Homo sapiens: one gene and its partners. The protein of the gene in region 1 purifies or fractionates together with the protein of each later gene. This does not show direct contact. Each region holds a gene or a part of one and is shown on either strand. Other genes may lie near its edges.

Evidence for each region. The genes of interacting proteins can lie anywhere in the genome.
Region 2: the proteins of NUAK2 (region 1) and UBXN7 purify together in Homo sapiens (affinity purification with mass spectrometry; 2 studies listed by BioGRID and IntAct, with this or other methods). This does not show direct contact.
Region 3: the proteins of NUAK2 (region 1) and PPP1R12C purify together in Homo sapiens (affinity purification with mass spectrometry; 2 studies listed by BioGRID and IntAct, with this or other methods). This does not show direct contact.
Region 4: the proteins of NUAK2 (region 1) and RAI14 purify together in Homo sapiens (affinity purification with mass spectrometry; 2 studies listed by BioGRID and IntAct, with this or other methods). This does not show direct contact.

The regions. Positions count from the first base shown.
Region 1 is NC_000001.11:205,318,920-205,322,897, reverse strand, and holds the start of NUAK2 (NUAK family SNF1-like kinase 2), read left to right. Parts: upstream 1-1,152; 5' UTR 1,153-1,269; coding exon 1,270-1,500; intron 1,501-3,978. UniProt on the Homo sapiens protein: Stress-activated kinase involved in tolerance to glucose starvation. Induces cell-cell detachment by increasing F-actin conversion to G-actin. Expression is induced by CD95 or TNF-alpha, via NF-kappa-B.
Region 2 is NC_000003.12:196,359,389-196,362,933, forward strand, and holds part of UBXN7 (UBX domain-containing protein 7), read right to left. Parts: intron 3,300-3,545; coding exon 2,906-3,299; intron 2,536-2,905; coding exon 2,456-2,535; intron 1-2,455. UniProt on the Homo sapiens protein: Ubiquitin-binding adapter that links a subset of NEDD8-associated cullin ring ligases (CRLs) to the segregase VCP/p97, to regulate turnover of their ubiquitination substrates.
Region 3 is NC_000019.10:55,104,099-55,107,643, reverse strand, and holds part of PPP1R12C (protein phosphatase 1 regulatory subunit 12C), read left to right. Parts: intron 1-3,545. UniProt on the Homo sapiens protein: Regulates myosin phosphatase activity.
Region 4 is NC_000005.10:34,820,322-34,823,866, forward strand, and holds part of RAI14 (ankycorbin), read left to right. Parts: intron 1-1,410; coding exon 1,411-1,529; intron 1,530-2,634; coding exon 2,635-3,545. UniProt on the Homo sapiens protein: Plays a role in actin regulation at the ectoplasmic specialization, a type of cell junction specific to testis. Important for establishment of sperm polarity and normal spermatid adhesion.

The DNA.
Region 1 (3,978 bases):
AGGCGGAGCTTGCAGTGAGCAGAGATCGCACCACTGCACTCCAGCCTGGGCGACAGAGGGAGACTCCGTCTCAAGTCAAACCTCATAACCTACCACCAGTGCTCCTGGCACCAAAATCACAAGAAAACCTTGGGTGGAGCAACCATTTTCAGACTTAGGGACACAGGTTAGATAGTCGGCATGTAAAAATGTTAAATAAATATGTATCCCTTCGGGTTCTCTCCACCTCCAGCCGACACATCCTAAATAAATTCCACTAAGTGGTTGAGGGAATCTACTAAACCTTAGAAGCCCTCTTTTTTTTTGAAACGGAGCCTCACTTTGTTGCCCAGGCTGGAGTGCAGTGGCGCCATCTTGATTCACTGAAACCTCTGCCTCCTGGGTTCAAGCGATTCTTCTGCCTCAGCCTCCAGAGTAGCTGGGATTACAAGCGCGCACCACCACGCCCGGCTAATTTTGTATCTTTAGTGGAGATGGGATTTCGTCATGTTGGCTAGGTTGGTCTTGAACTCCTGGACCTCAAGCGATTCGCCTAAGAAGCCCTCTTTGAGGAAGAAGGAAGAAGTTTCCAGGGCCATTGGATTCCAATATCCAAGTAAGGTTGATCTAACTGAAGACAAGTGAACTCGAACCATAGGACAGCTCTGCACTAACCCTCCCACTAGGCTGGATTCTGCCTCTGTTCCATCCCAGCTCCCTTTCTCCTTTATGGACTCAATGAAGTGGTCAAGCAATTATAGATTTTGGCTTGGGACAAGCAAATTACTCAGGATGAAGAAATACTTTGGTGACCTTTAGTGCCCTCAGATCGCCCCTTGCCAACTGAGAACAGAGTACAATAAAACAACAGGGCATTAAGCAGGACCAAGCGCCACTCAGAGGCAAGTGCAGCTCCAAGGGCCCTCAGAGTAAGCTTCTGGGCCTCAGGCGGCCTTCGCTGGAATCCCCTAGTCCCCATTCCTGGTGGGCGGGTTCCATTGACACCTTTCCCGGCCACGCCGAGGGGGAGGAGGCGGGGCCTGGAGCCCCGGAGAGCCAATGTGGACGGCCGTGGTCACGCGCCGCCGTCGAGCAGGCCAATGGGCGCCGGGGGGCGTGTCCAGGGCCTCGGGCTCAGGGCGTTTATAACAACTTGGAATGCTGTGCTTTACTGCGCGCTCTGGTACTGCTGTGGCTCCCCGTCCTGGTGCGGGACCTGTGCCCCGCGCTTCAGCCCTCCCCGCACAGCCTACTGATTCCCCTGCCGCCCTTGCTCACCTCCTGCTCGCCATGGAGTCGCTGGTTTTCGCGCGGCGCTCCGGCCCCACTCCCTCGGCCGCAGAGCTAGCCCGGCCGCTGGCGGAAGGGCTGATCAAGTCGCCCAAGCCCCTAATGAAGAAGCAGGCGGTGAAGCGGCACCACCACAAGCACAACCTGCGGCACCGCTACGAGTTCCTGGAGACCCTGGGCAAAGGCACCTACGGGAAGGTGAAGAAGGCGCGGGAGAGCTCGGGGCGCCTGGTGAGTGCGGCTCCCTCTCGCGGCGCGGGGCGGGCTCCGGCTTGGCCGCCGGCAGGGAGCGGAGGAGGGCGGGCGGCGGCTCGCTCGTTGCTCGGCGGAGAGGCCAGCGTGGTCTTTACCGCGCTGAGCTTGCGGGGCTACTGCGGGGTGTCCCTGGCAGATGTGTCAGTCCGTGATTGCAGGGACAGTGGTCGCAAACTTGCGAACCCCAGCCAGCAACACCGTACTGCTGTGATGATTGCCAAATAAAAGGGAGGCTATGGATAGTTGGCGCGGAAAAACGAATCGTGTCGTGTCCTGGGATAAGATGGATGGGACTTAAGTTGAGTTTTGCTGGGAAAAGACTGTTCAATAGAGTGCAATGGAAAGAGGAAGTAGAAGGCACCCCATCTTAATAGGTATTTGGTAAATATGTGTGTGGTTGAATGAATGGATGAGGTGTGGATTTCCCCAACTCCAAGAATCTGGCAACCCAGCACACTGGAGCTCTGGCACGGGGTGGGTTTTGACATTTAGGTCCTTTCCAGCTCTAAAATTTAGTTGAAATTTCATTATGATGAGTTTTTGATTCTGGAAAATGTGAAACCAGGTCCACTGTACCAGAGACACCTTTCGGTTTGGGGGCCTTTTCAAGAACATGCCCTGTTACTTTGGTGCGAGCGTAGGAGTCTAGCAGTCTGTGTGACCTTGGGCAATTTCCTTCATCTCTGTACTTTGTTTCCCCTTTTGCAGAACTGTAGAAAACACAGCCTGCCTCACAAGCTGCTGTGAGGATTGAATAAGATCGAAATATGAACTTATATTGCTCCTAACACATAGAACTTGCGGTGAGATAGCCGGGCGCGGTGGCTCACGCCTGTAATCCCAGCACTGTGGGAGGCCGAGGCGGGCGGATCGTGAGGTCAGGAGATCGAGACCATCCTGGCTAACACAGTGAAACCCCGTCTCTACTAAAAATACAAAAAATTAGCCGGGCGTGGTGGCGGACGCCTGTAGTCCCAGCTACTCGGGAGGCTGAGGCAGGAGAATGGCCTGAACCCAGGAGGCGGAGCTTGCAGTGAGCCGAGATCGTGCCACTGCACTCCAGCCTGGGCAACAGAGCGAGACTCCGTCTCAAAAACAAAACAAAACAAAACAAAACGAAACAAACAAAAAAAGAACTTGCAGTGAGAATTTCTGGAAAGGGCAGCCCAGAAAGGATGGCAAATTTGTCAAAAGTTAGTTAGCAGTGGTTAACTGGTTCTCAAACTTGAGTTTAAAGTACGTAAGGATCACCTGGGATGTTTGTTTAAAATACTTACATTCTCTGGTTCCACACCCAGAGTAATTTATTCTGAAGGTCTAGGATAGGGCCATATAATGTATATTTTAACAAGCCTTTTAGAGCAGGTGGTTTAGGCATTATTATGTTTTGCCAAATCCAGTTGGGTGCTGGTTGTGAGGGGGTGTGTGTGTGTGTGTGTGTGTGTGTGTATGGTTTGCCCTATTGGCTACATCAGCAGTTACTTCCCCAGATTGTGTTTGCTTTTGCAGCCAGTAGCTGGTTTGAAATTCAAGAAGTCATTTCATTGGTGAAGGAGAGTGGATGTTGGAGAAAGGGGTAGATTATGGCCCCATCAATAGGACCGAGTATGTTTTTCCTGCTATCGCCTGGCACAGTCCCCAGTTGCCTGCTGCCAGGTTACAGCTATTGGGCAATCATGTACTTCCTGGCTTGCCTTTTCTTTCTCTTTCTGCAAAGTGTGAGGGCCCGGTGAGGCTCCAGGCTTGAGGCTGTTGGACCCAGGCTTTGTCAGGGGCTTAGCTGGAAAATAGCTGCTGGTGGCTTGTGCTTCGTGCCTCTTGGGGGTGGAGACACTGGGTCGTGGGGACTGGGGTGGCCCAGAGACTGAGAAACTGAGATTGAAGTTCAGAGTTCCCATCAGGCTCTTGACCCAGGTCACTGTGGGGTGTGTGTGTGGATGTGCATGAGAGAGAGAGAGTAAGAGAGAGATCTCATTTGATTCCAGAATGAGATAAACTAGCTTTCAGTTTTCAAACTTAAGTGGATTTAGGCAGGGATTCCAGCTCTTATTACATCAGAAGATACTCCCTGGCCTCATGCCTCTTGCTCTATGTAGGAAGCCAAGATCAGTAGGCATGGGACCTGCTGTGAACCTCCCTGATCCATAGACCACCCAGTTCTGCAGCTGGGAACTTGCTCAGGGTCTCCTTCCTTCTTGGAGAGCAGCTGCCTGCTGTGCTAATGGTTTCTCAATTCTGGAGCATTGCCTCTTCCCCACCCCACCCCACCCCTGCCTCTTGACTGTCCTTCGTGAATCGAGAGAGACCTAGTGCCTCAGGATACTTCAGTGCGGGAGAGGGGTGTGGGAGCTTGCCCAAGACCTCCCCTAGAATGAATTGAGATTGTTGGTGGGAGCTAGATTCAGAGGAAAGCCAGCTGGGTGACTTCCATCCCAATTTTCTCTCCACCTTTCT
Region 2 (3,545 bases), on another chromosome or scaffold:
GGCCAATTAATAACCTACCAGTGTAGGCCTCTAAGTACCCAAGTGAAAGGAAGTGTCCATCCTCAAAATCAATCAATTGCTAAAAATGATGAAGCTTAGTGAGAAAGGCACGTGGAAAGCTGAGACAGACACAAAGCTAGGCCTCTGGCACCAAACAGCCAAGCTGTGAATGCAAGGAAAAGTTCTGGAAGGAAATTAAAAGTGCTACTCCAGTGAACACACAAATGATAACAAAGCAAAACAGGCCGGGAGCAGTGGCTCACACCTGCACTTTCAGAGGCTGAGGTGGGTGGATCACCTGAGGTCAGGAGTTCGAGACCAGCCTGGCCAACATGGTGAAACCCCATCTCCACTAAAAATACAAAAGTTAGCTGGGCGTGGTGGTGGGCGCCTGTAATCCCAGCTACTCGGGAGGCTGAGGCAAGGAGAACTGCTTGAACCCGGGAGGCGGAGGTTGCAGTGAGCTGAGATCGCACCATTGTACTCTAGCCTGGGTGACAGAGCAAGACTCTGTCTCAAAAAAAAAAAAAGGAAAGAAAGCAAAACAGCCTTACTGCTGTGCTGCTGAAAAGGAGAAAGTTTTAGTGGTCTGTACAGAAAAATCAAACCAGTCACACATTCCCTTAAGCCAAAGCCTAATCCAAAACAAGGTTCTAACTCTTTTCAATCCTATGAAGGCTAAGGGAGTTAAGGAAGCTACGAAAGAAAAGCTGGAAGCTAGCAGAGGTTGGTTCATGAGGTTGAAGGAAAGAAGCCATCTCCATAACATCAAAGTGCAAGGTGAAGCAGCAAGTGCTGATGCAGAAGGTGCAGAAACTTATCTAGAAGATGTAGTGAAGACAGTTCACGAAGGTAACAACACTAAATAACAGATTTAAGTTTGACAAAACAGCCTTCTATTGGAAGAAGATGCCATCAAGGACTTTCACAGCTAGAGAGAAGTCAGTGGCTGCACTCAAAGGTTCAAAAAGGCTGACTTTCTTGTTAGGGGGTAATGCAGCTGGTGACTTCCAGTTGAAGCCAATGCTCATTTAACATTCCAAAATCCCAGGTCCCTTAAAAATTATGTTAAATCTACTCTGTCTGTGTTCTGTAACTGCAACAACAAAACCTGGAAAGACAGCACATCAATTTACAGCATAACTTACTAAATATTTTAAGCCCACTGTTCAGACCTACTGCTCAGAAAAAAGATTCAACATATTACTGCTCATTGACAACGCACCTAGTCACGTAAGAGCTCTGACGAAAATGCAAATAAAAATGAATGCTGTTTCCAGTCTGCTAACCCAACATCCATTCTGCAGCCCATGGATCAAGGAGTCATTTCAACTTTTAAATCTTATTTAAGAAACACATTTTGGCCAGGCACGGAGCCAAATCTCAACACTTTGGGAGGCTGCGGTGAGAGGATTACTTGAGTCCAAGAGTTTGAGACAAGACCTGGCAACACAGCAAGAAACCATCTCTAAAAAAAAGAAAATTAATTGGGTGTGGTGATCTACTCAGGAGGGTGAGGCAGGAGGATCACTTGAGCCGGGGCGGGGAGTCAAGGTTACAGTGAGCTATGACCACTGCACACCAGCCTGGGCATAAATACAGATTCCTTTGATGAATCTGGGCAAAGTAAACTGAAAATCTTCTGGAAAGGATTCAGCAGTCTAAATACCATTAAGAACATTCACAACTCATAGGAAGTCAAAATATCAACATGAACAGGGCTTTGGAAGAGGTTGATTCCAACCCTCATGGATGACTTTGAGGGGTTTAAGAATTCACTGGAGGAAGTCACTGCAAGTGGGGTAAAAACTGCAAGAGAACTAGAATTAGAAGTGGAGGATGGCGATATGACTGAATTGCTGCAATCTCATGATCAAACATTAAAGGGAGGGGGGTTGCTTCTTATGGATGAGCAAAGAAAGTGATTTCTGGAGATGGAATCTACTTCTGCTGAAGATGCTTTTAACACTGTTGAAATGACAACAAAGGATTTAGAATATTGCATAAACTTGGTGGATAAAATTGCGGCAAATTCTGAGAAGACTGACTCCAGTTTTGAAAGAAGTTCTACTGTGGGTAAAATACTATCAAACGGCAGCACATGCTACAGAGAAATTTTTTGTCGAAGGAAGCAACTGATGCAGCAACTTCACTGCTGTCACATTTTCAGAAACTGCCACAGTACCCATCACCCCAATCAGTCAGTAGCCATCAATATCAAGACCCTCCACCAACAAAAAGATGACTCACTGAAGATTCAGGGGATCATTAGCACTTTTTAGCAAAAGCTTTTTTTAATTAAGTTATGTGCTTTTTTTTAGACATAAAGCTACTGCACACTTAATAGACTATGGAATAATGTAAACATAACTTTTATATGCACCAGGAAACCAAACAATTTGGGACTCGTCTTATTGCAGTGGTCGGAACTGAACCAAAGCAAGCCTGTACTTACTAGCAGTTTAGCTTGCTCTGGAAGAGTGATCTGTTCCCTTTTTCCATCTGGATACCGCAACATCAGCTGTGCTTTTGGTCCTAAAGGAAGGGTTTAAAAAAAAAAAAAAAACGGGATACAGGAGTTTAAGACAGAATATTAGTTTAAATAAATATGTAAATAAATACAGCCATTCAGCAATTACTCAAGTGTTTTGCTGGAGTGCAGTGGCGTGATCTCAGCTCACTGCAACCTCCGCCTCCCTGGTTCAAGCCACTCTCCTGCCTCAGCCTCCCAAGTAGCTGGGACTATAGGCACGTGCCACCACACCTGGCTAAGTTTTGTATTTTTAGTAGAGACAGGGTTTTGCCATGTTGGCGAGGCTGGTCTTGGAACTCCTAACCTCAGTGATCCACCACGCCCGGCCCCAATATCTAAGTTTGAAGTAAAGTATGTCTAAATGTAACTTACCATTTACATCTATCCCCTCCACTACTCCATCTGCTTTTTCAGGTGGCATCTCCAGTATCTCTGAATCCACAGCTGGCAATCCTTGGTGGTTTGTGGCTGTTCCAGGATCAGTTCTGACTGGTGGCTCAGTCAGCGGCCTTCTATTCTCCTCTTTTCTATGCCCCAAATCTTTGTGGGGAGACTTTCTGGACTTGGCAAGATTCTCTACCTCTTCTTCTTCATCAGAGCCACAAACGGATATGAACTCCTCACTGCCAGAAAAAAGTTCAGATTCAGATTCTTCATCTGAGCGGCTATCCTGTTTTGTCTGTGTTGAATCAAAATGTGTTTCTTGTAAGGAGGCTCTGATGGCAGCTTCTAGCTGGCTGTCTTCACTTGCATCTATAAGGCTCTCCTGTGAGATGGAGTCATAAAACACAGGAAAAAGAACAAGTTAAACCAAAAAACAAGTCAAACGGCATAAGAAATATAATAGCTTGCCATTCATTATTATGTTCTGCTGACTGTATCCCTTCTACTTTAAGAGCAAGGACTGTGTCTTACACAGCCAAATTGGAATGGAGATATATATATGTGTGTGTATATACACACACACACGTTTTTGTTGTTTTGTTTTGTTTTGTTTTTGAGATGGAGTCTC
Region 3 (3,545 bases), on another chromosome or scaffold:
ATTTCCCACCTATGAGTGACAACATGCAGTGTTTGGTTTTCTGTCCTTGCGATAGTTTGCTGAGTGATGGTTTCCAGCTTCATCCATGTCCCTACAAAGGACATGAATTCATCCTTTTTTATGGCTGCATAGTATTCCATGGTGTATATGTGCCACACTTTCTTAATCCAGTCTATCATTGATGGACATTTGGGTTGGTTCCAAGTCTTTGCTATTGTGAAAAACAGCAGCAATGGAGTTTCACTCTTGTTGCCCAGGCTGGAGTGCAGTGGCATGGTCTTGACTCACTGCAACCTCTGCCTCCCGGGTTCAAGCAAGTCTCCTGCCTCAGCCTTCCAAGTAAGTGGGATTACAAGCACCCGCCACCATGCCCAGCTAATTTTTGTATTTTTAGTAGAGATGGGGTTTCACCATGTTGGCCAGGTTGGTTTTGAACTCCTGACCTCAGCTGATCCACCCGTCTCGGCCCCCCAAAGTGCTGGGATTACAGGCGTGAGTCACCGTGCCTGGTCACATTTTTTTTTTTTAAAGGCAGTCTATGGCCTTATGTAGCTGAAGTCCATATGGGCTCTAGGCATAGCTTGATCCAGGGGCACAAGTGAAGTCCAGAGCATCTCTCTATCACTCTGCTGAACTCTGTTGGCTTCACTCTTAGACAGGTTCTCTCCGTGAGGCACTCAGCATGGGTCCTACTGCAGGCCCATATCACAGCCAAAACACAGCACCTCTTGCCCTGTGCGTGATGCTCACTGGGCCACCTTGGTCAGATGGCAGCTCCTGAGCCCATCACTGTTGCAAAGGTGACAGGAAGGCCTGGTGATGTGCGCACCCTGGAGCCAGGCTATGGGCCCGGTCACATTGAAACCATATGGGGCAAAGTGTGGGTGAGGAAAGTCAAGATGAGGTCACAGGGGAAGGGAGAATGGATTTTCGTAGGCCCAAGCAGCAGCTGTGCTGCAGGGACACGCAGCAGCACCATGTCCTGTGCAGAAGGGACCCTCCCTGGCCACTTTGCACAGGGGCATGGAACTGGCAGGAAGAAGACATGATGTGTTTTTGAAACATTTGAAGCCAGCTCACTTGGAATTCCAGCATCCAAGTCAGCTGGAAGAGGGGGAGTTACCCTTGGAGGCAGGCGGAATCGACCATTGGATAGCTCCAAGTGCTGACAAGGGCGGACACGGGAGCTGATTTCTGCCTGGTGGGAAAGGTGATGATTCCAGCTACTTTGGGAAGTGGTTGGTCAGCATGGATTATAGCCGAAGGCCCCAGCTTTGCCTTGTTCTAGCAGTTCCACTCCTGGGCAGCCCGAGAGAGGCCTTCCCAACCATGGGCAGATGTTCATCATAGTATTGTTTGCAGTAGTAAGAGGTCGGAGCCCACACCAAAGAGGATGGATCAATCACTAAACTCTAAATGAGTGATCTAAGCAGGGGTCAGCAAACTTTCTCTGTAAAGGGCTAGACAATGAATGTTTCAGGTGTTGCGGGACACACCATGCCTGGCACCACTATTCCACTAGTGCTGTGGAGCGGGAGACTGCTAGGGATGGTGTGTGAATGAATGGGAATGACTGTTCCATCCCACGTTTATTGACAAAAATCGCCTTTCAGAATAGGCAAATCCACAGGGACAGAAAGATTGCTGGGTGCAAGGGGCTGGCGGAGAGGGAGGTCTGAGAAGTGACTTTTTTTTTTTTTTTAAGACAGGATCTCACGCTGCCTCCCAGGCTGGAGTGCGGTGGAGTGATAATGGCTCACTGCAGCCTTGACCTCGTGGGCCCAAGTGATCCTTCCATCTCAGCCTCCCAAGTAGCTGAGACCATAGGTGTGCACCACCATGCCCAGCTAATTTTATTTTTCTAGAGACAAGGTCTCCCTATGTTGCTCAGGCTGTTCTCAAACTAGTGGGCTCAAGTGATCTCCCATCTTGGCCTCCCAAAGTACTGGGATTACAGGCATGAGCCATGGTGCCTGGCTGGGAGTGACTTCTTCTTGGATACAGTATCCATTTGGGATCATGAAAAAGCTCAGGAAGTAGATAGTGGTGATGGTTGCATAATATTGGAGGTATCCTAAATGCCACTGAATTGTGCACTTTAAAACAGGGAAGTTGGTAAATTTTATGTTGTTTATTTTACCACCACCACCACAACAAAAGATAAAGAAAACACAACAGGTGGTCAACACCCACAAGCTATAGCTTTCTGACCCCTGGGCAAGGGCTCTGTCTACAGATACAGACAGATCTCAGCAACATGTTGAACACAAGAAGCAAATTGCAGAAGGATGTGCAGCAGACATGCAGAGGGCGCTGACTGTGGTTGAATAAAAAGCCAGTCACCCTCCCTTCCCCTCCCTGAATTGAGACCCATTCGGCTATAATAGGATTGAACAGTTGGTGACTCCTTTAAAGAAATGACACAGCCAGGTGTGGTGGCTCATGCCGGCTTTGGGAGGCCAAGGCAGGAGGATCCCTTGAGCCTGGGAATTTGAGGCTTCAGTGAGCCATAATTGCACCACTGTACTCCAGCCTGGGTGACAGTGTGAGGTCCTGTCTCAAAAAAAAAAAAAGGGTCAGATGCGGTGGCTCCTGCCTGTAATTTCAGCACTTTGGGAGGCCGAGGCGGGTGGATCATGAGGTCAGGAGTTCAAGACCAGCCTGGCCAACATGATGAAACCCCATCTCTATTAAAAATACAAAAGTTAGCTGGGTGTGGTGGCGTGTGCCTGTAATCCCAGCTACTCAAGAAGCTGAGGCAGGAGAACCGCTTGAACCTGGGAGGCAGAAGTTGCAGTGAGCCAAGATCATGCCACTGCACTCCAGCCTGGGTGACAGAGCGAGACCATATATATATATATATGGCCTAAAGTTTACTGAGCAAATCCAGTGCTCAATTACATCTAACTTTTCCTGTCACTACCAATATAATTTTTTTTTTTTTTGGAGACGGAGTCTCACTCTATCACCCAGGCTGGAGTGCAGTGGTGCAATCTCACTGCAACTTCCGCCTCCAAGATTCAAGAGATCCTTCCGCCTCAGCCTCCCAAGTAACTGGGATTACAGGCATAAGTCACCATGCTGAGCTAATTTTGGTATTTTTAGGAGAGACACGGTTTCAACACGTTGGGCAGGCTGGTCTCGAACTCTTGACCTCAGGTGATCTGCCCACCTTGGTCTCCCAAAGTGTTGGGATTACAGGCATGAGCCGTTGTGCCACCCCCCAATATAATCTTAATCCAGCATCTTCATACATTTTATCACCATTACCACTTCTGTCTATATATGTTACATATATAGGAGAGATATATATATAGGTTTTATATATATAGGAAATGTGTATATATAGGTGTTATATATATAGGAGATGCATATATATGTTATATATATATTATATATATAAATATTTTTTATATTTATATTTTTGTATGTGTGTGTGTGTGTATATATATATATATATATACTTTTTTTTTTTTTTTTTTAGACAGAGTCTCACTGTGTTGCCCAGGCTGGAGTGCAGTGGCGTGATCTCAGCTCACTGCAAC
Region 4 (3,545 bases), on another chromosome or scaffold:
GTAATCCCAGCACTTTGGGAGGCCGAGGTGGGCAGATCACCTGAGGTCAGGAGTTCGAGACCAGCCTGGCCAATGTGGCAAAACCCCGTCTCTACTAAAAATACAAAAATTAGCTATTACATAAAATTATTGAGATTTTATGTAATAGTTAATTATTGAGCATGCCTGTAGTCCCAGCTACTTGGGAAGCTGACGCAGGAGAATTGCTTGAATCTGGGAGGCAGAGGTTGCAGTGAGCCGAGATCGTGCCACTGCACTCCAGCTTGGGTGACAGAGCAAGACTCCATCTCAAAAAGTAATAATAATATTAAGTTTGGACCAGAAATTCACACAGTTACTTCACTAAGCACATTGTTTTGTTCAGCTGACATATCTTTTGTAGGACTTTCTAGATGAAGGAAGCAGTACATTGCATTGCATTCTGGAGGAAGTTTGCTATCTCTGTGAGCACCTTGAATAGCACTCCTTAAGTTGCAATTTCAGCATGATAATCAGTAGGATGTCCGAAAGTTGTGGTTTACCAACAGGGATTACTGTGGGATTCAGAGAAGAGAAGATAGTTTCATGCTAGGGTGGTCTTTGAATGCTTTAAGGACTGGGCAAAGTTTGACATGATGCTTAAGAATTCTCTAGGCAGAGAGATTCTGCAGGGCAATCCTGTGGATAAAGAATGAAAGAATCAGCCGTGTGTTGAGAATGTAGAGGGTGTGATGGGAACCATGAATCTGAGGAAAATAGGAATCTAGAAAAGTAGCAGTGTCATGAACCTGAAGAAGTAGACTGGAGCCAAATCATAGAGGCCTGAACCCAGATAAAGGAATTTGGAGATTATTTTTGGAGGGAAAACAATTAAAGCACTTGACCCAGAGGAATGACCCAATCAAAGTATGTTTTAGGAAGACTGGTCTGACGTTGCTGTGCAGGCTACAGTTTCACTGGGAAGAAGAGAGAGGCAGAGATTTGTTGGGAAGCTGTTTGCAGAGTTTCCAAGTAAGGTGATAAAGTCTTAACTACAGTAATGGTGGTAGGGGGAAAGAAATAAACCAGATTCCAGAGACATTTCTAAAATGATTCACATAACTGAGACTTACAAGGCACAGGGAAGAACCAAAAACAACCAAGATATGACACTTAAGCAAATGAATAGGAAATATATGACCAAATTCATCAATTTTCAGATTGCCTTGTGTACACATGTATCTAGTATTGTGCTAGCAATACCACAGTAAGGAAACCCCAGTTTCCTTTCTATATAAAATGAAAATTTTAGTTCACCCATCCAGCTGCTAGGGCGTTTTATAATTAGGGCCAGGAAGAAGAACTGGATTAGGCTAGGAAGTGAATTTGTCTCAGGTTAGAGAAATAAGAGTTTAATTGTTTTATATTTTAAATGGCTTTCTCTTTCCCAAGGTGCTGATAGCTTATTGGATATAAGTTCTGAAGCTGACCAACAAGATCTTCTCTCTCTATTGCAAGCAAAAGTTGCTTCCCTTACCTTACACAATAAGGAGTTACAAGATAAATTACAGGTATATAAATAGATTGCTATCATGGACTATTCTGTAGAGTCAAGCTCTTGGTCTTTTCAGTAGTCAGATGTATTTTGTTTTAAATGTGTACATTAGTTTCTTTTTAAATATTAGCTTTAAGCATCTTATAGTTTCAGATTATTTGTTTCATGAGAGTGTTATTCATTAACTCTTTCTGTAAATTATTCAACTGGTAAATTATAAATAATTATACACATAGTATGATCAGTATTAAATATTCTATATGTTTAATAAATTATATAAATAAAACAAAATTTATAGAAAAAATTCTATATAAAATATACTATATGCATAGAATGATGCATAATATATAATTTTATATTTTGATTTTATATATATTAAAATTTTACGTTTTAAATTATATATGTATGTGTGTATGTATATATATATATATATATATATAAAATATTATCCATTTAGTAAAGTTGATCATTTAACAGGTTTAAGTACTTGATAAGAAATGGCTGTACCAAAAAATAAGAAGAAGAAATAGCTGTACTATATATCCATTACCCCTCTTGGCAAGTAGAATGATATAAGAAATAAAGGAAATTTTTGAATTGGAGGCTTTGTAGAGAAAACAATTTTAGTGTTTTCAAAGTGACACAAATCGTCTGTCCCAATAGAACCCAAAGCAAGCTTTGTGTCATTAGTCCCACTCATGTCCCAGACTGTCTTTTTTCATGGCATGAGAATACACAGGCAAAGTGATCATGCTACTCTCCCGTACCAAAGTTGCGGATTTACTCCTCTCATTCTAGTTGCTTGCTTAGCTAACCACGCCTTTGGTATCTTTTTTTTTTTTTTTTTTTTTTTTTTTTTTTTTTTTTGAGACGGAGTCTTGCTCTGTCGCCCAGGCTGGAGTGCAGTGGCGCGATCTCGGCTCACTGCAAGCTCCGCCTCCCGGGTTCACGCCATTCTCTTGCCTCAGCCTCCCGAGTAGCTGGGATCACAGGCGCCCGCCACCACGCCCGGCTAATTTTTTGTATTTTTTTTTAGTAGAGACGGGGTTTCACCGTGTTAGCCAGGATGGTCTCAATCTCCTGACCTTTGATATCATTTAATTCTTGCTTTTTTTTCCTAGGCCAAATCACCCAAGGAGGCGGAAGCAGACCTAAGCTTTGACTCATACCATTCCACCCAAACTGACTTGGGCCCATCCCTGGGAAAACCTGGTGAAACCTCTCCCCCAGACTCCAAATCATCTCCATCTGTCTTAATACATTCTTTAGGTAAATCCACTACTGACAATGATGTCAGAATTCAGCAACTGCAAGAGATTTTGCAAGATCTACAGAAGAGATTAGAGAGCTCTGAAGCAGAGAGAAAACAGCTACAGGTCGAACTCCAATCCCGAAGGGCAGAACTGGTATGCTTAAACAACACTGAGATTTCAGAGAACAGCTCTGACCTCAGCCAGAAACTTAAAGAAACTCAGAGCAAATACGAGGAGGCTATGAAAGAAGTCCTTAGTGTGCAGAAGCAGATGAAACTCGGTCTTGTCTCACCTGAAAGCATGGATAATTATTCACATTTCCACGAGCTGAGGGTCACGGAAGAGGAAATAAATGTGCTAAAGCAGGATCTGCAGAATGCATTAGAAGAAAGTGAAAGAAATAAAGAGAAAGTGAGAGAGTTAGAGGAAAAACTGGTAGAGAGGGAGAAAGGTACAGTGATTAAGCCACCTGTGGAAGAGTACGAGGAAATGAAAAGTTCATATTGCTCTGTTATTGAGAATATGAATAAGGAGAAAGCATTTTTGTTTGAGAAATACCAAGAAGCCCAAGAAGAAATCATGAAATTAAAAGACACACTAAAAAGTCAGATGACACAGGAAGCCAGTGATGAAGCTGAGGACATGAAAGAAGCCATGAATAGGATGATAGATGAACTCAATAAACAGGTGAGCGAGCTGTCACAGCTGTACAAAGAAGCCCAGGCTGAGCTGGAGGATTACAGGAAGAGGAAATCTCTAGAGGATGTCACAGCTGAATA